Regions from separate parts of the Homo sapiens genome. Here regions 1 and 3 are each linked to region 2. Evidence: fine-mapped expression QTL. A gene starts in region 2. Each other region holds a variant in brackets. All regions are shown on one strand. Distances are between the middles of the regions.

What was found. PIP is the estimated chance that this variant, and not a neighbour inherited with it, causes the effect.
Region 1: its variant is fine-mapped to the expression of CHD5 in whole blood (TOPMed, PIP above 0.99).
Region 3: its variant is fine-mapped to the expression of CHD5 in whole blood (TOPMed, PIP above 0.99).

The regions. Positions count from the first base shown.
Region 1 is chr1:6,150,519-6,157,799 of GRCh38, forward strand. CHD5 (chromodomain helicase DNA binding protein 5) reads right to left here. Exons shown (of 42, transcript NM_015557.3): 4 at 5,081-5,199; 5 at 4,142-4,380; 6 at 1,894-2,018; 7 at 514-637. Among named protein-coding and RNA genes, the nearest start is that of CHD5, 26 kb to the right of the region's middle. The variant C/T (reference allele first, on the strand shown) is at 3,498.
Region 2 is chr1:6,175,963-6,183,243 of GRCh38, forward strand. It overlaps CHD5 (chromodomain helicase DNA binding protein 5), which reads right to left and starts at 4,359. Exons shown (of 42, transcript NM_015557.3): 1 at 3,983-4,359. The coding sequence starts at 4,061. RefSeq lists enhancers at 2,615-3,116, 3,117-3,616.
Region 3 is chr1:6,140,445-6,147,725 of GRCh38, forward strand. CHD5 (chromodomain helicase DNA binding protein 5) reads right to left here. Exons shown (of 42, transcript NM_015557.3): 10 at 6,221-6,427; 11 at 5,768-5,979; 12 at 3,580-3,711; 13 at 3,379-3,487; 14 at 1,970-2,161; 15 at 1,684-1,884. Among named protein-coding and RNA genes, the nearest start is that of CHD5, 36 kb to the right of the region's middle. The variant T/C (reference allele first, on the strand shown) is at 4,329.

The DNA of each region.
Region 1 (7,281 bases), 25 kb before region 2:
TGGATGGTGGATGGATAGCTGACGGATGGATGGACAAATGGATTGATGATGGATGATGGATGAATGGCTGGATGGATGAAGGATGGATGGATAAAAAGAAGGGACTGAGGGAAGGAGGGAGAAGGAGGGATGGGAAGGAAGGTGAGGTAAAGATGGGTGTTAAGTGGGTGGGGGGTGACTGAAGGGAGGATGGCGATGAGATGAAGCACTTCCCTCTCCAGTCACCACACTGCTAATGCAAATGCCCTGGGGTAGCTCCCACCATAGGTTCCTTGTTCTTTCCTTACTGGGACAGGATGCCCCTCCCCAGACAGTAGAAACCAGGGCCGTGTGGGAAACACAGGGGCCCCACCTGGCTGAGACATGAGGATGCCCTCCCCCTGCTTCCCACGGGGAGGTTCCATGCCCCGCACATCCACCCGGCAGGCCGAGAACCGTCCAGATGGGGAGTCCTACTCGTGCCCCACTACATCCACCCAGCAGGCCAAGAACTCTCTGGAAGGGGAGTCATACTCCTCTTCTTCTTGCGCCTCCTCTTGCTCTTCTTGCCCAGGGCTGCAGAGCATTCGGAGCGCACGGAGGCACTGTGGATGCTGGCGCTGTCGAAGTCCGACTCCTCCCTCTCATCTTCTTCACTCTGCAGGGGAAGACAGGGTCCTGTGATCCCAGGGCTTCACCCAGAAGGCTTCGCTGGCCCAGGCAGTGTGGGGTGGGACAAAGCACGGAAGAGGCTCTGGAGACACAGTGCTCTCTGTGATTCATCTCAGCCCCCAACACAGCTGAAAACCTCACATTACAGCCTGCCTGTCCAGCCTGATGTCCCACCGCCTACCCAGAGCCCTGCTCTCCAGCCTCAGACACTTCCCACAATTTCCACCTCTGAACAGCTTCCCAGGCCTTGCCCTCCATCCTGCCAAACTCCTAAACATCCTTCAAGGGGCAGCCCTAGGGACACCTCCTCCAAGAAGTCTTCCCAGATCTCTCCTTTACTGGACCTACTGTGGCTGCGTGTGTGCCAGGTCTGGCCTGTCCTGTCTGACTGGTACATCACGGGCTCTCCACCAGCAAACATGCCTGCCAGGTGACGAGTGCTACAGGACCACGGCCCACTGTGGCTGAGCAGCGGGCCTGGTACACAGTATGTGCTCAACAAATATCTGCTAAGCTGAACTGGACCGTCAGCTCCAGGGCGGGCCACACCTTCTCTCCATGCTCCCCTCCAGACCTAACACTGGCTCCTGCCATGGTGCAGGGAAAGAGCTTCCAACTCCACCCACCGCAGGGCTGGGGTGAGGTGAGGGAGGCAGCTACCTGTGGGGGTGAGGAGGGCGAATGCCCCTCACACTCACAGAGAAAGGGGGGCCCCAAGGCTGAGTAAGACCTGGGCTTAGTGTCTGAGCCTGGGCCCAGAGCTGGCCCTGAGGACAGGAGGAGGTAACTGGGGCTCCAGCCAGCCTGATCCTACCCACATACCACTTCTCTAGGGTCCAGCCCCCACCCAACTACTCCCCCCGAGAGCAGACCTGGGTGCTGGGCGGCCAGGCCCCACCAGGACAGATCCCTCCACCTCCTGCCCAAATGGAGTTGCAGCTGTGGACAGCAGGAGCCAGGACTGAGCTCCCACTCAGGAGGGTGAGCCAGGGGAGCACTCCCTGCCCAGAGTCCAGGCTAGAAGGGCCCTTGGAAGGATTCAATCTAAACTCCTCATCACACAAATGGAGAAACTGAGGCCCAGCACACCTGCATGTAGGATGGAAGGAGAATAGTGGAGGGGTGCGACCTGCCCCAGCTAGTTTGTAATGAACTGAAGGCCCTCGCCTGGCCCTTGCGTGCTCATGTGCAGACACACATGCATGCAAATGCACACACACGCGCACACACGCACACACTCACCGAGGAGCCTTTCTTCCTCTTGTTGCTGATCCCCCCGAAGCGGAACTTGAGCCCGGCCGTCTTTTTCCCTTTGCCCTTTTTCTTCCCATCTTTGGAGCCTTTGATCTTCTTCCTCACTCCAGGCCCTGAAAAACAGCAGTGATGATAGCCAACCACTGCCACCACTGACGGCCTGCTTCCTGCCATCATCTCACTGAGCTCTCGGTTACCCAATAAGGAAAGGGTCATTTCTACCATCACCCCGTTTCAGATGAGATGCCTGAGGCTTGGAGAGGTAAACCCCTTGCTTAAAATCACACAGCAAGTGAGGCAAAAACCAGATGACGGCTCTGACTGGAGGCTGCCCTGACCGCCTTGCTGCCCCTTGTCCATGACCCACAGAAATGTGGCCCTTTTGGGAGGATCCCCTATACCGTCTCCAACCACTGAAAGGAGGCACTAGCCATCCCCCACAGCCAGCAGGGCCACTGAAGGCACAGCCGCCCACCTGTGGTCCATGCCTGAGCCCCCAAAGGATGTCTTGGAGCCAAAAGGCCTTTTCCCACCTGCCAGCCAGGCAATGCTGGTCCCACCCAAGACTGCCCCACCTCTGCCAGTCAACCCCAGCAAGGGCCAGCAGGGCTGAGGCTGTTTTTATGGAGCTGGCCACAGGGCAATTAGCTACCTGGGGAGTAATGACCCAAGAAGGAAGGGGGGCCTGGAGGCAGGGATGCACACCCCACAGAGGCAGCCTCTCCCCAGGCCGTCCTCTGGCCACACCACACACACGGACATGGAGCTAGGAGCCCAGCTGCACCCTCCATGGCGCCGCGGAAAATCTATTTCAATTTTCCAAGCTCTGAATAAGCAGCTCATGGAATCGATAGCTCAGCAGCTGGAGCGCGAGAGGAAATGAGAAAACAAGGCAGGCTGGGCAGACAGGGGCGGGCCAGGAGCCCCTCCCGAGATCCTGATGGCCCAGACAGATGGAGCAGGACAGGGAACAGACTCTGACCCTTGTCACTTCACCCACCAGGCTCCCTTCAGAGACTTGGCATGGTGATGCCAGACACAGAACCCCAGAAACTAAAGCTCCTTGGGGCTGAAAGAAGGGATCCCCGGAGCCCCCTCAGCCCCTTCCATCAAAACCCAAATCAGCCAGACGCGGTGGCTCACACCTGCAATCCCAGCACTTTGGGAGGCCGAGGTGGGCAGATCACCTGAGGTCAGGAGTTCTGAGACCAGCCTGGCCAACACGGTGAAACCCCGTCTCTACTAAAAATACAAAAAATTAGCCAGGTGTGGTGATGCACTCCTGTAATCCCAGCTACTCAGGAGGCTGAGGCAGGAGAATTGCTTGAACCCAGGAGGCGGAGGTTGCAGTGTGCAGAGATCGTGCCACTGCACTCCAGCCTGGGAGACAGAGTGAGAGTCTGTCAAAACAAAACAAAACAAAACAAAACAAATCAGGGCACCCAGGAAAGCTGAGCTGCAGGTGACTGACAGCCCTGGGGAGATCAACATCCCCAGCCTCCAAAAGGCCAGAAACCTGCACCCAGAAAGCTCCCTCCCCAGGGCCTTCAAGTCACAGGGGGCCTCTGCTGCCTGCATCCTCCCCACCCAGA[C/T]GCCCTGCCACTGAGGCAGAATTTGGATCTCGATCTCCTTCCAGGCCTGTCCCAGAACAGCCTCCCTGGGAAGCGAGACCTGGCCGTGCCCAGTCCCTCCAACTCCTGCCTGCTTCCCGGATCCTAAAGCTGGAGGGGCAGGGCCTCCATGCTCCACATTGGCCGAGGGCCTGGAGAACAACCCTGCACACAGTGGGTATGCAGACAAGAAGAAGAGACGGGCTCGACTGGGGCCTCCTCCTCCTCCCCAGAAACGGCACAGGCTCAAACCCAAGAGCCTGCCAACTCCCAGAAACCCAGGCTGGAGCGGCTCCACTCTGCGTACCTCTGGTCCCGCCCTCCCTCCAGGCCCACGTCGGGGGCACCTCCTGGCTGGCCAGGCTCAAACCTCCCAGACCTCTGCCCACATCATCGCCTCTGCTTCTCCACCAACCCCAAAAGGGAGTCAGGCACAAAAGAGGCGACGATGCTGCCTCACTGCTGAGAAAGGACCGGGCAATCCAAGGTCACACAGGCACAGAGCCCTCCATTAGGAGCACCCCAGCTGCCCCTCCCTGCCCGCGTCTGCCCCGTGGCTTCTCCTATAGGGTCTGAAAGGGACCTCTTCCCAGCGGGACTAGGTGCCCACCCAACCCCAGCCTTACCTTTGCCCTCCTTGGTCTTGGCCTTGCGGATAGGCACAGGCTGGGGCACCTGCGGGGGGCTGACGGCTAGCGGAGGGGAGATGGTGACCGTCTCTACAGCCGCAGCCACCGCCGCCGCCGCTGCTGCCGCGGAGCTGCCCTTGAAGGGGTTGTTGGCGCTGAACTCCCGCCACTTGGCACCCAGGACGGTCATCATTTTGGACATGGGGATCTTCGGGTTCTTCTTGGCAATGAGTGGCCTGTAGGGGGAGAGGCAGGAGGGTGAGGGCAAGGCCAGGTGAGATGAGAGGCCCACCCGACCCCCGGCAGGGCCCACCCCTCTGCCACATGTGCGATCTATGGCAGCAGCCCCAGGTTCCTGATTAGAGAGATTAGGCGGGAAACCCACTGACCACAGCCCACCCCCAAAACGCCCCAGCTTCCTGTCCACACCCACAGCCCACCCCCAAAACACCCAGCTTCCTGTCCACACCCACAGCCCACCCCCAAAACACCCAGCTTCCTGTCCACACCCACAGCCCACCCCCAAAACACCCCAGCTTCCTGTCCACACAGTTGGTGATTTTCTCATTGGGTTTTCAGGCCCTGCAAGACTTGTGGGGCCACAGGTGGGCTACAGTGGGCCTTGGGGTCTCCGTCCCACCTCTACCAGAGCTGAGAGGCCATGGTGGTGAAAGACCCCCCAGGAAAGACTGGAACCACCTTCCCCAAGGGGAAGAGACTCAAGGGCTGAGGGGCAGGGCCCACAAGGGAAGGCCTGGTGGTCTGTTAACATGAAGGGGTCCTGCCCCCTCCCTCCAGCTCCCCCAGGTTGCTCAGTCGGTCTGACAGAGCCCACCCCTACCCCAGGTGCCGGGGCTTCACTCCTCTGCCTCCCTCCCGACTTGGTACCACCAGAGGATGTGCGGGCCTGGAGAACAGCCCTAGTGCCCCGCCCACCTGAGGAACTGGCTGAAGGCCTTGTAGTTGGTCAGCGTGTGGTAATCCTCCTCCGAGAACAGGTAGTCCACGTCGTCCAGGCCCCACTCGGCCATGAGCTGCCCCGAGGACTTGGGCTCCTACAGAGACCCAGGCCAGAGGTAGAGTTGTTGAGGGGCCTTCTGACCTGCACCCCCATCCCCAGGGTCTCTGCCTAGGAGGCTTTGGCACAGGGGAAAGAGGAGGGGTTGTGTCTGCAATGTAACCAGACCATTCTCACCCACCCTAGGAAACATTCAAGCCCTGCAGCCCCGCAGCCCCGCAGCCCCCAATCTGTGCCACGTCTCAGATGCCAGCCCACGAAGTGCAGGCCAAGTGTTCGACGTCAGGGTTTGGGGAGAGGCCATGTGTGTGCCCTGAACTTCCAGAAAGGGAAATCAGCCAGGTGTGGGCAAGGAGACTGGATGCCTGAGACCAGGCCCCCATCCTGAGATAGGGCTGCCCGACCAGCCTCGGGACACCAGGGCAGGACAACAGAACTTGCCCTCTGTGGGGACTGCATTCTGGGGATTTGGACAGCAGGACAGCACAGTGGCCTGAAGACGGGAAGATGTCCCTGATGAGGCCGCAGGGCTCCAGGGCTGCCTAAGCCACTTTAGAAAGACATGAGGCCTCCAGGCCAGGGGTGGTGGCTCACGCCCGTAATCCCAACACTTTGGGAGGCCAAGGCAGACAGATCATTTGAGGTCAGGAGTTAGAGACCAGCCGGGCCAACATGCTGAAACCCTGTCTCTACTAAAATACAAAAATTAGTTGGGTGTGTTGGTGTGTGCCTGTAATCTCAGCTATTTGTGAGCCTGAGGCAGGAGAATCACTTGAACTCGGGAGACGGAGGTTGCAGTGAGCCGAGATGGCGCCACTGCACTCCAGCCTGGGTGACAGAGCAAGATTCTGTCTCAAAAAAAAAAAAAAAAAAAAAGACATGAGGCCTCCCCAGGATGCCAGGTATAGCTACGTCAGCCCTTGTGAAGGACAGGCCACTGCCAGTTTCCAGTGAAAGGAAAGTGCACTCTGCTGGGGCAGGGGCATGGGACAATGGGCCAGCTGGGGGCACAGCCCAGAGAGGATCCAACTACTGCTGAGGCCTGGGGTGGAGGGACATCCTGGGGGCACAGCCCTGAGAGGATCCAACTACTGCTGAGGCCTGGGGTGGGGGGACATCCCAGGGGCACAGTGAGTTCTCAAGAGAGCTAGCCCAGGGGTCAGGTGACCAGATGACCAGGCCCGGGCTGGCGGGGCTCAGAAAGGGAGGTGCCGGATGTGGGCATGGGCTGGTTCTGATCCTGGCTCTGCCACATACCGGTGGTAAGAAGTGGATAAGTTACTTAACTTTCCTGCCTCGGTTTCCCCATCTGTAAAATGGAGATAATGGCACACTGCCTTGCAGAACAGAATGACTTAGTGCAGGTGCTTGGAACAGGGTGTGTCAAAATGCGTTAGCAATTGTTAGCACCCAACCCACCCTTCTTCTTCCTTCCCTGACACCCCACTTCTTCCAAGCAGCCCTGAGCTGCCCCCACCCAACCTGATACATTAAGCCAATCAGTACACACCACTCCTAGGCCAAAGTCTGGTCAGGCCAGTCATGTCTTAAGCCAGTCCAATCAGAGGGAATGCTGGTCTCCTGCCTGCATACCTGGACATGGGAGGCCTGCTCTCCCTCCTGCTGGAGGGGCCAAGAAGCCCCGAGCTGCTGCTGCCCTCATTCTCAGCCACAAGAATGCTCAGCCATGAGGGTGCCTGGCCTGAGCCCAACACTGCCACAGCAGAGGCAGAGTGAATGATGCAAAGAGACAGCCTCTGATAACACCACTGGGTCCCACAACCCCGAAGCCCCTTGCCTCTTAGTTCTCAGGGCCCTGATCCCACACATCCCTCTACTGCCTAGGCCCCGGAGCTGGGCTTCTGCTCCTGCAACAGGAGGCTGCCCTGAGCGTCTCCCAGCACTGAGAACCAGTCTGCCCATCCAGGCTGCGGGAGGCCTCCAGAGCCCATTCTTGCCTCCTGTTCTGTGACAGCTCAGAGAATTCCTCACATGGGGCCCCCTCTGTGGCTGACCTGCCCCCGTGGACACACATGGCCATTCCTGATGGCACACGGACCCCTTGGTCCCCACCCAGGACAGCAGAGCAGCAGGTGAGCGAGGGGATGATACTGTTACA
Region 2 (7,281 bases):
TGGTTTTGTAGGTGGATGGGTAGATGTGGGTGGGTAGGTAGATGGATGGATGGATGATGGGTGAGCGACTGAATGAACTGATAAAATGATAGATGGATCCTATTACCTGATCAACTTGGAATGACAATGAATAACCCACTGGCCAAGCCACTGGGCAAAGTGTGCTGGTCATTTTGTCTCCCTCCTCCCAGAAAAGAATGTTAAATACAATCAGGCTCCCTGGGACCCCCCTACCAAACCATGCTTCCACAGGGGTAGGGGTGCAGGCTAAAATGTCATGGCCTTTTGGGAATCATGACTGTCACTCTCTCCTGGCCCCTGGACCTGAGGAAGCAAGCCTAAGATACTTACACATCTAGGGCCAATTGTCACTGGGGCCAGAGAGGTAACGGTGCCTAGTCCAGACATTGCCCATTCTGGGCTCACTAGCTTTGTCTGTGATTGAGGAAAAGCTGGGCCAATGAGGCAGGGAATTTGCCAGCCCAGCAGTGGCCCTAAGAGGGCTGAGAGCCACATTTTCTGAAGCCCTCTCCTGCTTCCTGCCACCCCTACCTTGGGCTTCACAGCCCTCCTCCCACCCAGGCTCCTACTCCCCTGAGCTTACTGGCTAAGGATGCAAGTATCAGAAGCATTTCCTTGGAGAAGGCAGGACAGCTGCCCTCCTTGGCTGGTGCTAACTACACCAGCCACAGTTTATTGAGCACCTATCATGTGCTGGGCACTGTGGCCTAATGTTCCACATGCACTGTCTCACTGTTCCTCATAATAACCCTCTATGAGGTAGCCAGTGCTATGTCCCCATACTACAAGTGGGCACACCGAGGAGAGGGCTGCCTGGCTTGTCCAAGACCACTCAGCTAATGCTCAGAGCTAGAAGCCAAGGCCTCATCCCACCAGCTCTTGACCCCTGGCTTCAACCAGCCACCCCAACTCCCAGGAGAATCTGGCAACTGCTGGTCCCCCAACCAGAAGAGGCACCCGCCCTGCCTTCCTCCTAGAAGCTGGCTCAGACACCTGCCTCAATGCCAGAGCTGGCCAGGGCAAACCTCCCCCTCCCCACCATCACTGCACGGGAAACAATAATTCACTGCTGAGAGTGAGCAACTCCCAGGGGGAGGTGGGAGATGAGCAGAGTCAAAGAAAAAAGATCGGACAAGTCATGAGTTTAATAGCCGTAGACTGAAAAATCATCATGACAGCTTCCAAAACACTAGCTCCTCCAGCCACAAACTTCCATCTTTTGGAACCAGCTGGTTCTGGTCTTTGGGGGTCACCGCCACTGAGCTTGGACTCAGGGCTGCATAGGGGCTATGAGGAAGAGCTCAGGGTGAGTGGGGGGCCAGCAGTGCGACTTGACAGGAGGCCTGGCTAGGGCTGTCTTCACAGCCAGAAGCTGGGGTGACCTAGAGAGTCCCAGCCCTCAGACACTGAAACCACAACCATCTCTCAGGAACGCATGGTTTCAGGTGCTGGGCATGGCAGGTTATCGAGAGTTACATTCGAAGGGGAACCCACAGATCCAGGAGGAAACTGATGACAACGTTTCGAGTATGTGAGGTGTGGTGACACAAGCATGTAGTCCCAGCTACTAGGGAGGTTGAGGCAGGAGGATCGCTTGAGCACAGGAGTTCAAATCCAGCTTGGGCAACACAGCAAGACCCCATCTCTTCCAAAGAAAGCATGACAATGTGTCTCAGAGTGACTGGAAGGCCCTTAGCAAGGGTGTCCCTCCCCATCATAACATTCGAGCTGGGACCTAAATGACCAGGAGGCAGCGGTGAGCAGAGGAAAGAGCAGGTCAGGCAGAGGTCACAGCCAGGGCCCCATGGCAGGATGGAGCGTGGAGCGTGGAGTGTTCCAGAAGCAGCAAGGAGGCCAGCGTGGCTGCTGTGAACAAAGGGGTACAGGAGTGGACCCGGGACAAGGGTTTCAGAGGCGACTGGAGCCATGCGGGTCGGGATCTGACTTGGGTTCACGAGGTGACCCCAGCTGCTGTGCAGTGGGTGGTCAGAAGGAGTGGGTAGAAGGCCCTGGAGGGGACCGGCAGGAGGGGACAGAGGCTTGGACCCAGAACATGGAGAGAAGCCAGGAGCCTGGAAAGGCTCTGGAGGTGGAGCAGCTGGCCTTGCTGATGGATGGGGACAGAATCCCCAGGCCAGAGGTGCCAGAGCAGGGCGTCTCTTCTGCAGGGCTCTGGGGGCACTCCTGGAGGCTCTGGGGCCAACCCACCGAGGGGGAGCACGGGTGGTGGGCAGGATGACCAGAGCCCCGCCTCTCTGGCCCAAGCAGTGAGTCGGGTGCCTACTAGACTGGGGGCACCTTCCCTGGCCTCTTCCCCTCCCCAACCTCTAAGTCCCCACATAGTCAGAGAGAGCCGGAGTGTAAGATGGGAAAGACAGCCAGGGGACTCCACCAGCGGGTCGGTGCAACCCCAGAAATGCCACTGATCCCACAAAAGGGCCACACCCCAAACACCATAACAAACAACTTGCTGAGAAAACCAGTAAACTGGCTTACTGGGGAGCCAGCCTCCTAGGTGGAAAATGGCCACTGATTTTTTTTTGTGCCTGTGCGGGGCCTCAGAGTTCCCCTCCGGAGAATGGGTCTAATTCCAAGGACCCAGGATATGACAGTCAACTATTGTCCAGGCAACTCCACCCCAAGAGAGGACTCCCCTATTCCCCGTCCCCAGCACGCTCGCTGCCAACTTGGCCTGTCTAACAGGCGAGGTGAGTGCCGGGCTCCTGTAGGAGCTCAGTGACAGCATTAAAGCCACCAACTAACCAAGCAAGCAAACAGAAGGGGGCAGGGGGTGTGGCCACCTGGTGGGAATACCCTCCCCAGAAGACGCTGGCTGCTTCCTCCAACAGGAGCTGGAGGTGTCCATTTGTGGAGTCTTCTCACCCCTGGAAGTCAGAAGGGGCCAGATGCACGTTCCTGGGCCCGGGAGGGCCTCCAGCCTCCCACAAGTCTCTCCGAAGTCCAGAGAGGCCACAGACTTGGCGCAGGGAAGCCGAGAAGTAAGAGTCTCCCAGAAAGGAGGGAGGGTGGCTGACAGGGTGGGGCCCTACCCAGCTGTGCCAGGAGGGAAAACGTCCCAAACAAATGGTGAGCAGTTAACTAAAGAACTGTCCCGCAAGGCAACCCCTGGCGCACAGCCCTGTGTATACTAAATTCTGAGAGAGATAAAAGGAGAGAGATGGTAGGGGCAGGGGCGGTGGCCCTGGGGCGTCAGGCCCGTAGCCAAGGCAGGGTGGGCTGGGAACGGCCACCACCCTGGGCGATGGTGAGGCTGGAGACAGCGGCGGGCGCTAGGTCGCGCCAGAAGGACGCCGGCGGCCCGGGTAAAGTGCTTGGGAGCGGCGGTCACAGCGCACAGAGGCCAGGAAAGAGGAGCAGGGGTCCGAGCCCGTGCGTCCCAGAGCGGAGTCCTCCTGGGCCGGGAGGGAAGCCGCCCCATCCTGGGCGCTCAACGCGTCCCCAAGCACCGCCGGTCCTCGCCCCTCTCTGGGCCCCACCCAGCCCGCCCCGCGGCCGACATGGGCCAGGGGCCGGGTCCCGCCTGCCCGCAGCGAGGCCAGAGGCGCACGGCGGCGGGACGCGAGCGCGGGGTGCGCCGCTCCGGGAGCTAGCGCGATTCCCGCCCCCTTCAAGGGCACGCGGGCTGACCCTGACAGCGCCGCGCCCCCCAGCGCAGGCCCCGGCCCGCGGTCCTCTGGCCCGCCTGGCCCGCGTCGCCGCCCGGGGGGCCCGGATCGCACCCCGCCCTTAGCCGCCCTCACGCCGGCCCGGGCGCTCACCCAGCCTTCGCCCTTGGCCGCGCGGCGCCAGCAGGGCGGGAGCGCAGCCCCGCAACCCGGGTGCCCCTCCTGCGAGGCGCCAGCCCGGCCGCGCCGCCCCCGCCGCCCGCGCTCCGCCCTGGGCCCGGCCCGTCTCGGCGCCCCCGCCGCTCTGGCCCCAGGCGCACCCGCGCCCCGCTCACCTGACATCTCGTCCTCATTCTCCATCTCCTCGGCGAACAGCCGCGGCAGCTCCTCCTCGGTGCCCACTGGGCCCCGCATGCCCGGCGCGGGGAGGAGGGGAGGTGGGCGCCCCCCCTCCCGCCGGGCGCGGTGCCAGCCTTAACCCGTGCGCTGCCGGACCGGCGCGCGCGGCGGGCGAGGCGGCCTCGGCGAGAAGATGGCGGCCGCCTGCCCCCCCACCCCCCCAAACCTCCACCCCCCCGTCTCGACCCCCCTTTCTCTCGGCCGCCTTAGCCTGCTCCCCGCAAAGCCCGGGCGCTCCTCCCACCGCGCCCCGCAGCCCGAGTCCCGCAGCCGGCCGAGGGTGGCGGCGGCAGCGCCAGAGGCACGGCGGCACGGCGGGGGGGCGGCACACATGCCCGGATTGTGACGTCCAGTCTGGTTGCTGTGGCAACCCCATCCCATCGTTCCGGCAGCGCGACTAGTTAACAGCAGAGAACAAGTTGGGGGACTAGTCCTGAGCCGCCGGGTGAGGGTGGGGACCGGGGGGCGCCCCGGCAGGGGGAGCCGTCGAGGCGTCCGCGCGCCCGCGGACCCGACGGCCGAGCGGGCAGTCGGGGCTTGGCGAGCCCGGGCGCAGGGGGAGGCGAGGAAACACCGCCCCCGCGCACCCCGGGCAGAGCCAGCCGCCGCCGCTCGCCTGCGAAGGCGCTGGGCCCCGAGCCCCCAAGGGCGCGGAGGCAGGGTCTTCAGGGCAGCGCGCGGCCCGCTCCCCCACTCGGTTCACAGGCGCCGGGACCCACCCCGCTCCCGGCTCCGGCCTCGGCACGTTCCTAACCCCCTCTCCAAAGAGGATTAGAAGAAAAATGTGTTCCACACTTGGGGAAAAGACGCTCTGGAGACTGTGGGTCTGATTTACAGCAGAAAAATCCGCGCAGGCGGGCTCCCCTCACCTGCTTCCCCGCTCCCACCGCCCACGTGCCCCCTTCCAAAAAGCCCCTCCAGGCTGGGTGCAGCTGAAACCCATGCAGACCCCTAGGGGTGGTGCGGATCTGCGATGTCTGTGCCCAAAACTCCCGCTCAGAAGCGACACCTGTCGCAGAGCAGGAAGGAGCCGCCGCCACCAGCCCTCGGTCGTTAAAGGTGAAGATGGAGGCCAAAGCCCTCGGGAGCAAGACTGGAATTTTAAATGAGCGCCTCCAGTCTCCGCGGCGGCAAGTCTTAAAGCTACCTTAAGAACGCAAAAGTTCCAGGGGCTGGCCGACCGCCAGCTCTCTAACCCCAGAAGGCCCGTGAAGGGAGGGCCCCCTCTCACTGCCTCGCAGGGGCACTGGGGGAACCCACCTGAGACACGCAGGATCGGCAGCAGTTTCCCTTCTTCCCGTTCAATTTTATTGCCAGCAAACCCCAAACAAAAGACCCTCTGCATTCATCCCTGGGCAAGGAGAGGTCGGTCCAGCCTTCTGGAACCAAAGACTGGGGTGTTGGGAACCCCTCCATCTCCCAGATCCGCTTTAACTACGCTGTAGATAGAGAAGCCGGGTCAGCCCAGTGCTGGCCGCCTGCAAGGGGAAAGGAACACTCTTCAGGGAAGCAGGCCAGGAAACCAAAGGGCCTCCCCTCCCAAGGCCGTGTTTCCCCACAGAGCAGCTAGCCAGGGGGAGCCCCAGATCACCGAGGCTTGAACCAAACCTGCCTCTTCCTCGTTCTTTCCAGACCAACTGCCTCCATGAATGGTGACCAACAAGGGAAGAAAGCCCTAAGCTGACACGCCCACCCCTCAGTTACCAGCCCCCCAACACCTCTCTAATCCCTTTCAAAGGTCCCCTGCCCTTCGGTAGAAAAACTCTGATTTACAATACTTCTCATCACCAGAAAGCCGCCCCCATCATTAACCCTGGCTCCAATTCCCAAGGCGAGGCTGAAAGTCAAGATATCGTTCAAGAAAGAACAGTTCTAACTGCTTAATCTGGCAACAAATTAGAGCCGAGATGCTCATCAGTCATAATCCTCTCCCCATCCTGTTCTTCCCGATGACTGCAACTAGGTAATATTATTTAATGTCCAAAAGCAAAATGAAACAAAAACTGGAATGCTAGAAACAAATGGATTTTTTTACTACAAATCTCCAGGTTTTTTGGGTTTTTTTTTTCAAGGGGGGGAGTTGAGATGGTGTCTGTCGTCAGGCTGGGGTGCAGTGGCGCAATCTCAGCTCACTGCAAATCTCCGCCTCCCGGGTTCAAGCGATTCCCCTGCCTCAGCCTCCCCAGTAGCAGCTGGGACTACAGGCGCGCACCACCACACCTGGCTAATTTTTTGTATTTTGGTAGAGACAGAGTTTCACCCTGTTGGCCAGGATGATCTCAATCTCCTGACCTCGTGATCCGCCTGCCTCGGCCTCCCAAAGTGCTGGGATTACAGGCGTGAGCCACCATGCCCGGCTCTCCAGTCATTTTTAAAGGTGAGCCCTTATTATTGTTAAACTATTAAATGGGTATTTTAATGACAACGGACCAAAAATGCATGACGTTAAAAGCAATCCCTGAAACTTGCAACTCTGCGTTGCAAGAACAAGCCTATCATTAAGGTTACTGTTTTAGGAGACAAGATTCTCATGTTTGCTGATCATAGAGCTCATAATTACACCTCAGTGACAATTCCAAAATCAAAATATTTTTTAATATACCGGTTACAAAAGCATCAAGGAAAAAACTTTTTTCGGCTGGGTGCAGTGGCTCACACTTGTAATCCCAGAACTTTGGGATGCCGAGGCGGGCAGTCATGGATCACCTGAGGTCAGGAGTTCGAGACCAGCCTGGCCAACATGGAGAAACCCCATCTCTACTAAAAATACAAAAATTAGCCGGGCATGGTGGCGGGCGCCTGTAATCCCAGCTGCTCGGGCGAGTGAGGCAGGAGATTCGCTTCAACCCAGGAGGCAGAGGTTGCAGTGAGCCAAGATTGCGCCACTGCACTCCAGCCTGGGTGACAGAGCGAGACTGTCTCAAAAATAGAAAAAAAAAAAACTTTTTCCAAGAACAGAGTGGAAAAAGCTCATCGTCTTCTGCACATACCATACTCAATTTCCATTCCAGGACTAAATGAACTCCTCATCCAGGAACCCCCAAGGCCTGCCTGAGGCCATTTCGTTCAACAATGCATATCCACGCTGTGGCCACCTGGCACCACCAGCTTCTCAAGGGCAATGAAGTGCTTGTACATACACCACCTCACAGCGAGTCACATAGATCAAAACTCTGCCCCACACCTCCTCCTCGGCAGGGGTGAAACGGCGTCACTCAGGACCGCAGTGTCCTCT
Region 3 (7,281 bases), 36 kb before region 2:
GCCCCACCCCAGCACTGCTGGGTCAGAGACTGTGCTTTAACAAGACCTTGCAGGGTTCACAGCACCATGAGACCTCATGCTTATTAACTCACTTGACTCTGTGGGGTGTGTCTGTTAACTCCATTTTGCTGAGAAAACACTGAGACCCAGTGAGGCCACGTGACTTGCCAGAAGTCACACAGCTGGTGCACTGCATTGAATAGTGTCCCCCCAACATTCATGTCCACCCAGAAGCTCTTTTGGAAATAGGGTCTTTGCAGACATAATTAGTTGTCTGGGCATGGTGGCTCAATGCCTATAATCCCCATGCTTTGGGAGGCTGAGGCAGGAGGATCACTTGAGCCCAGAAGTACAAGACCAGCCTGAGCAACATACGGAGAATCCATCTCTACAAAAAATTTAGAACTTAGCTGAGTGTGGTGGTGTGTACCTGTAGTCCCAGCTCCCGGGAGGTCAAGGCTGCAGTGAGCTATGATCAATCACTGCACTCTAGCCTGGGTGACAGAGCGAGACCCTGTCTCAAAATAATAATAATAATAATAATAATAATAATAATAGGCTGAGCGTGGTGGCTCACACCTGGAATCCCAACACTTTGGGAGGCCAAGGCAGGCAGATCGCCTGAACTTAGGAGTTCGAGACCAGCCTGGGCAACATGGTAAAACCCTGTCTCTACCAAAATACAAAAAATTCGCTGGGCATTGCGGCATGTGCCTGTAATCCCGGCGACTCTGGAGGCTGAGGCATGGGAATTGCTTGAACCGGGAGGCAGAGGTTGCAGTGAGCTGAGATCGTGCCATACTGCACTCCAGCCTGGGCGACAGAGTGAGACTCCGTCTCAAAAAAATAATAATAATAATTAATAATAATAATAATAATAATTAGTTGGGGCCAGGCACAGTGGCTCACTCCTGCAATCCCAGCACTTTGGGAGGCTGAGAAGGGCAGATCACTTGAGGTCACAAGCTCAAGACCAGCCTGGCCAACATGGTGAAACCTGTCTCTACCAAAAAATACAAAATTAGCCGGCCATGATGGCGCACTCCTGGAGTCCCAGCTACTCACGAGGCTGAGGTGGGAGAACCACTTGAGCCCAGGACGGGGAGGTTGCAGTGAGTCGAGATCGCCCCACTGCACTCCAGCCTGGGCGATACAGTGTCTCAAAAAAATAAATAAATAAATAAATAAAATAAGTAGCTAAGATGAGATCATACTGGATTAGGGTAGGCCCTACATCCAGTATGAATGATGTGTTTATAGGATGAGAAACAGACACAAACGGGAAAACCCCATGTGCTAACAGAGGCAGAAACTGACGCGACAGCTGTAGGCCAGTGAACCCCTGCCGCCACCAGGAGGCTGGAAGGAGGAAGGAAGGGTTCTCCCCTAGGGCTTTCAGAGGCACGTGGCCCTGCCCTCACCTTGATTTCCAACCTCCAGCCTCCAGAACTGTGACCGAATACATTTCTGCTGTTTGAAGCCACTCCATTTGTGACACTTTGTTACAGGAGCCCCAGAAAACTGACATGGCTGTAACTCAGCCTCTAGGACAAGCCCCTCAGAGCCTGCCGGCCTCGGTAGCCCTCCCAGGCTGAGGGACCCCAAAGGAGTGCACGGCACCCGTGGTCCCTGAACTAGACCGGGGGCCTTCCTACCGTCCTTCCAAGGATAGCGAGCCCTCACCTTCATACGGAATACCTTCTTCCCACTCCGAATGGCGTTGTCCTCAAAGGAAAACTCGTTCTCCCGAATCACCGAGCGGCTCTCCTTGTCCCCCGTGTAGGTGACCACGTAGAAGTCGGGCGCCCACATCTCAAACTCGCGTTCCCAGTTGATGATGGTGGAGAGGGGCGCGCTAACCAGGTAGGGCCCTTTGGAGTGGCCCTGGAGAGAGAGGCCGATGCCGTGAGACCACCTGCCCTTGGCCAGGACCAGCCACCCCTCCTGGCCGCCTGCCCCGCCTGCCCACCTCCTTGTAGAGGGAGTAAAGGAACACGATGGTCTGCACCGTCTTGCCCAGACCCATCTCATCGGCCAGGATGGTGTCAGTGCCCTGGGCCCAAGAGAAGCGCAGCCAGTTGAGGCCCTCCAGCTGGTACGGGTGCAGTGTGCCGCCTGTGGAGTCGATGTACCATGGCTGCTTGTCGAACTTGACCGTGGGCTGCAGGGGAGGCAGCGGTTCAGACACGCCCCAGATCCTGGGCCACCAGAGTCCACACTACAGGCCTTTGCACATGCAATTCCTTCTGCCTGGAACACTCTTCCCACTCCTGTCTGTCTTCCTAACTCTTCTCCAGTTCTTGGATGGAACACCTCTTCCTCTAGGAAGCCCTCCCTGACTCCCAGCCTGGCTGAAGTGCTCCCACAGTGTCCTCCCATGGCAGCCCTGTACTTCTCCTATCAGGGAAATTTCCCGACTGTTGAATTCTCTGACTCTGAGCCCAGGTTGTCATCACCACCTTGGTCCTGTTCACTGCCTCCTCTTGAGTACCACACAGTGCCTGGGACATGTGGTCACTTACTCACCATTTTTTGGATGAACAACAAAACGAACATCCATCTGGGGCATTCGCAACGCCCCCAGTAACAGGCTCCTCCACTGGATCCAGACATTTACTTTTTTTTTTTTTGAGACAGAGTCTTTGTTGCCCAGGCTGGAGTGCAGTGGCACAATCATGGCTCACTGCAGCCTCAATTTCCTGGGCTCAAGGGATTCTCCTACCTCAGCCTCCCTAGTAGCTGGGACCACAGGCACACCACCGTGCCTGGCTAATTTTTTGTAGAGGTGGGATCTCACTACGTTGCCTCAAACTTCTGGGTTCAAGCGGTCCTCCCACCCCGGCCTCCCACAGTGCTGGGATTACAGGCATGAGCCACCATGCCCGGCCCATTTGTCTCTTGATCCTGCTCCAGGTCACTGGCCCCATGCAGTCCTCCCAATGGACCAGGCCCATCTGCCTTTCCCCAGCATCTGACAGGCGCCTGATAGTCCCAGGCCAGGCCCTCCGTGTTCTGTGGATACCCACCAAGGGCCCCTAGAAGACAGTGTGTCTTCTGAAACAGCTACCCAGGGCTCACTGGCCCTCGTCTCCTCAGGGCCAACCCAGGGCCAGGCGCTAGTGGACACCCAGGGAGCTCTGCTGAGTGAGTCATCCTGGGTCTCCTCCCAGGTGAGAGTGGTGTGTAAGTAGCATGTCAGCTGCAGTGTTATGAGGGGCCTTCCAGCTGTCCTAGCCTACATGGGCATGACACTGTCTGCATAAGCCATGAGGGCCCAAGGAAACATCCTTTTGAGAACACACACCCCCTGCACATTCAAGTCTGAGGTGGGCAGGCCCTGGCAACCCCACCCACTGCTGCCCCACCCTCCCCACTCACGTCCACAATGGGCGTGTCCGGCGGCTTCTCCTGCTTGTCGTCCCTCAGCTTCTTGCCCTTCTTGAGCAGCCTCTTGGGCAGCCTGGTGTCTTCTCCCAGCATCAGCTCCCTGGGAAACGGCATTGGAGGCAGGTGAGCAAGGCTCAGCCCAGGAGCAGGTCCCGGCAGCCTGTGCCTAGCAGCCGGATCCCTGCGACCCACCTGTGGCCCCAGTAGGCCTGCTTGAGGTTGTCGTAGTAGGGGATGTCGATGTCATCGATCTCCCAGGTGCACTGGTCGTAGGGCAGGTCTTTCCACTTGATCAGGTAGTGCACATCCCCCTTCTTGTCAAAGCTGCAACACGGTGAACAGATGTGGGTCGCTCAGAGCAGTGGCCACAGCACAGGTTTGATGAAGGGCACCTCCCAGGATGCAGAGCCATTCACACCCAGGGTCCCCTCGGATGCTGGGCCCAGCCAGGAGGAGGAGACGAGGGCAGAAGCTCCAGGGAGGTGCAGCGGCTTGCCTGGGGCCACACAGCGAATGAGAGGGGGATGTGGCAGAGCTGGAGAGGGACACGGAGGCCAGCTAACAGAGGAGCAATGAGCCAGCCTCCCACATCCTTTGCAGCCTCTGTGGCAGGGATGAATCCCATTTGTCACAGGGTCTGGATTTTCACAGGAGTTCTGGATTTCTAAGTTGGAAAGTTCTCCTTCCTGCCAATGGACTCAGTTTTCTAACTTAAAATACGCAAAGGACTTGTGCAGTGCCCACGTAGGGTGAGGAGTCATCTCTGCAAAGTAGATAAGGATGCAATTCCTGCGTGTGAGGTGGTCTCTTCTGGGGACACAAAGACCCAGTGACCAAGCCCAGCAGCACACAGCTTGATTCTGGCCACTGGGAGGGTCTTTAGGGCCTCCCACCCACCCAGGCTAAGGCAACCAGGCCAGAGGAGTGCTGGAGGGCCGGGC[T/C]GGGGCTTGACTACCCCACACAGCAGTGCCGAGGAGGCACACAGACCCGGTGAGCAGCGGCTGCTGCGGGCCTGGGAACATTAAGAGAAAAACCGATCCCGTTACCACGGCAACCGATGTTTGTTTGTTTTCCCATACATAATTGATTGTTTTGCAGATTGGGGGAACAAATCTGGGGGAGATTCACCTGCCCCACTTTGGGGCAGAGAGAAAAACTACCATGTATATTTTTAGCATGTAATTTAGTAAAGGTAGAAAACCATGGGCCAATTCATTGCCGGGCTCAGGTTCCCACAGGAACTGACCCTTGAAGGTCATTCTCAGGGAGGCCTGGGGAGGAAAAGGGGGGTGTCCCATAGTTGAAGGGGGGCAGTTTTTCAAATTCCGCGACCCTCGTACTGAAGACCACCCACAGCCAGCCTCTGGCAAGCTCCTGTCACCCGTGCAGCAGCCTGTTCCCTAAAAGGGCCTCAAAGCTCAGCAGATGGGAACCGGGATTGAAATCTGAACATCTGGCTCAGGCTTTTAACCTCTGCTCTACCCAACAGCTGCCTGAAGCCAGAAGCACTGAGTGTCAGAGGCCACCGATCCTAAGCCCCTCAAAAACAGAGGCCACAGGGTAGCTGGGATGGGGAGCACAAGCTCCAAGCTGCCACCAGGCAGCAGGTACTCTGGGCCCCACCCCAAGGCCCATCTGTCAGCCACCACCAGTTCTCAAGCACCTCAACTCAAGAATCAGCAGGCATTCCCACCACCCACCAAATCAAAACCAAAGCCCACGGGCCTCCTGCCTCTGGCTCTTTGTGCCAGCCTCCTGCAGCCTCTGATTGCTAAGGCATCCCAGGGAACTGCCAGACTGCTCCAGGAAGAGCTGCTGCTGGGGCACTGGGGGGTGCAACAGTAGCTAAGAAAGCAGGTCCTGCAGTCAGAAAGCATGGGGTTCAAATCCCAGCTCCACCCCGTGGCTGTGTGATTCTGGCGACTTAACCTTGCTGTGCCTATTCTCACATCAGTAAAACAGAGGTGAAAGTAAGACGCCTCCCTCCCAGGGTAGGCAGTGCTCAGTACAGCCAGCTGCTGTTACAAACGCGGGGGAAATGTGGACATACTCCCACACCTCGGGCGTCCCTCGTCCTCAGAACCCTCTTGCTGGTATCAAGCACTAACCCAGCATGAGGGTCCCGACGCCCCAGGGGTGTGAACACGTATGCATGAGTGTGCCGGCATGCATGGGACGGCCCCTCTAGCAGGTCAGGCAGATCTCCAGCACTGGGAACCCTGGGCCCTTCCTTGTGCCCCTGCTGTGCCCACATGTGGTTCTGCACGGCAGCCCCAAAGCAAGGGCCCTGGCACCCTGCGCTGCACCCATTTTACAGGGCAAAGAAGCTGACGTGGCCCGGCCCCAGCGATGGGCAGGGTGGCCGCCTGCAGGCACACACCTATGGTTCAGGATTCGGTGAATCATCATCCACTCTGGCTTGATGCCATAGCGGTAGAAGCGCTCCTCCATCTTGGCATAGAGGGGGTCCTTGTTCTTCCTCTTCTCGCTCTTGCCGTCTTCATCCCCAGAGCCGTAGTCAAAGGGGGGCGGCTCATCCATGTCGTTCTTTCTTTGGTAGTTGCGATACATCACCGTGTGGTACAGCTCCAGCTGCTCATGGAGCGGCACAAAGTCACAGAAGGGAGATGGGCCATGGTCCCCTGCATCTCCCTACCCAGCTCCTCTAGCCCCAGCCCAGGTCCCAGGCAGGACAATCCTCCCGCTCAGCACCACCCCAACTCCCAACAGCACCCCTCAGTCAGAGGCGCTTCAGCCCCTTCCCGCCAGCCCAGGAGGGTCCAGGGCTCACCAGGTCCCGGGCCTTAGCACAGCCACCCTCCCGGGCACTCACCTGTAGCTCCTTCACCCAGGAGCAATGCCAGTAGGACAGCCCTGCCCACTTGACAAAGAACTCTCTCTCAGGGATGCCCTCCAGGGGCTTAGGTGGAGGGAGGCTGGGCTCCACGTCAGGCCCCGGCAGCCCCACCATGAAGGGGGCAGGGGGCTCCGTCCACCTCCAGTGTAGAATCCGCTGGACTTTGCCCTTCAGTGGGGGGCACTGTGGACAGAGAAGGGTCCCCAAGGTGGGGCTCAGCTGCAGGGCCCCACCCTGAGGCTCCCATGACAGCAGGCTGCCATGCAGGCTCCCTCCCATCAGTGCCACTGCCCCCAAGTCAGAACAGTACCACGGTGACGCCATGACATCCACCCCGTCCCCAGGAGCCGCATGGGTCATGCACACAGGAGATGGGCAGTGGGGGTCTGTGAGACCACGTGGCCCTTTCACTCAATGGTGAACTTATCGGCACCCAGAATATCTGAGCCAGCGTAGGTGAGACTGCCATGTGCATAGGACAGAGGGGGAAACTGAGGCCCACTCGGCAAGGGACAGCAGAGCAGGGAGCAGAACATGAGATTCTGGACTTCCCCTACCTTAGGTCTTCCCATTGCCCCCTGAAAAGAGGTCACATCACTGTGTGATCCCCAAGCACTCAGGGAGCATGAGCCCTGTGCTGGAGCCCAGGGACACGGCAGCCCCATCCACCATCCCTCACCCGGGGCAGGGCTGCACCCAGGCACCGTGCGTCTAGGCTGGGACAATGAGGCCCCATCTCTGGCAGCCCACAGACACACTGCAGGGGCCCTGACAGATGCTAGGGTGACAGTGAGCTGCTGGCTGGCAAAGGCAAGAAATACAACAGCCACAAACCACACCACTCGGGCCCTGAGATGGGTGGGAGCAGCCTTGGCCCTCCAAGGAGGCGGTGCTGTCTGACTGGACAGGGTCGGGGGTGACTGATTCAGGGAGACAGCTCTGGTGGGGATAGCAGGTCCCAGCTTTGCTACTACCTGTCCTCGGAAACTCATCCAAGCCTCCAGAGCCTGCTTTCCCATCTGTAAAATGGCCCACCC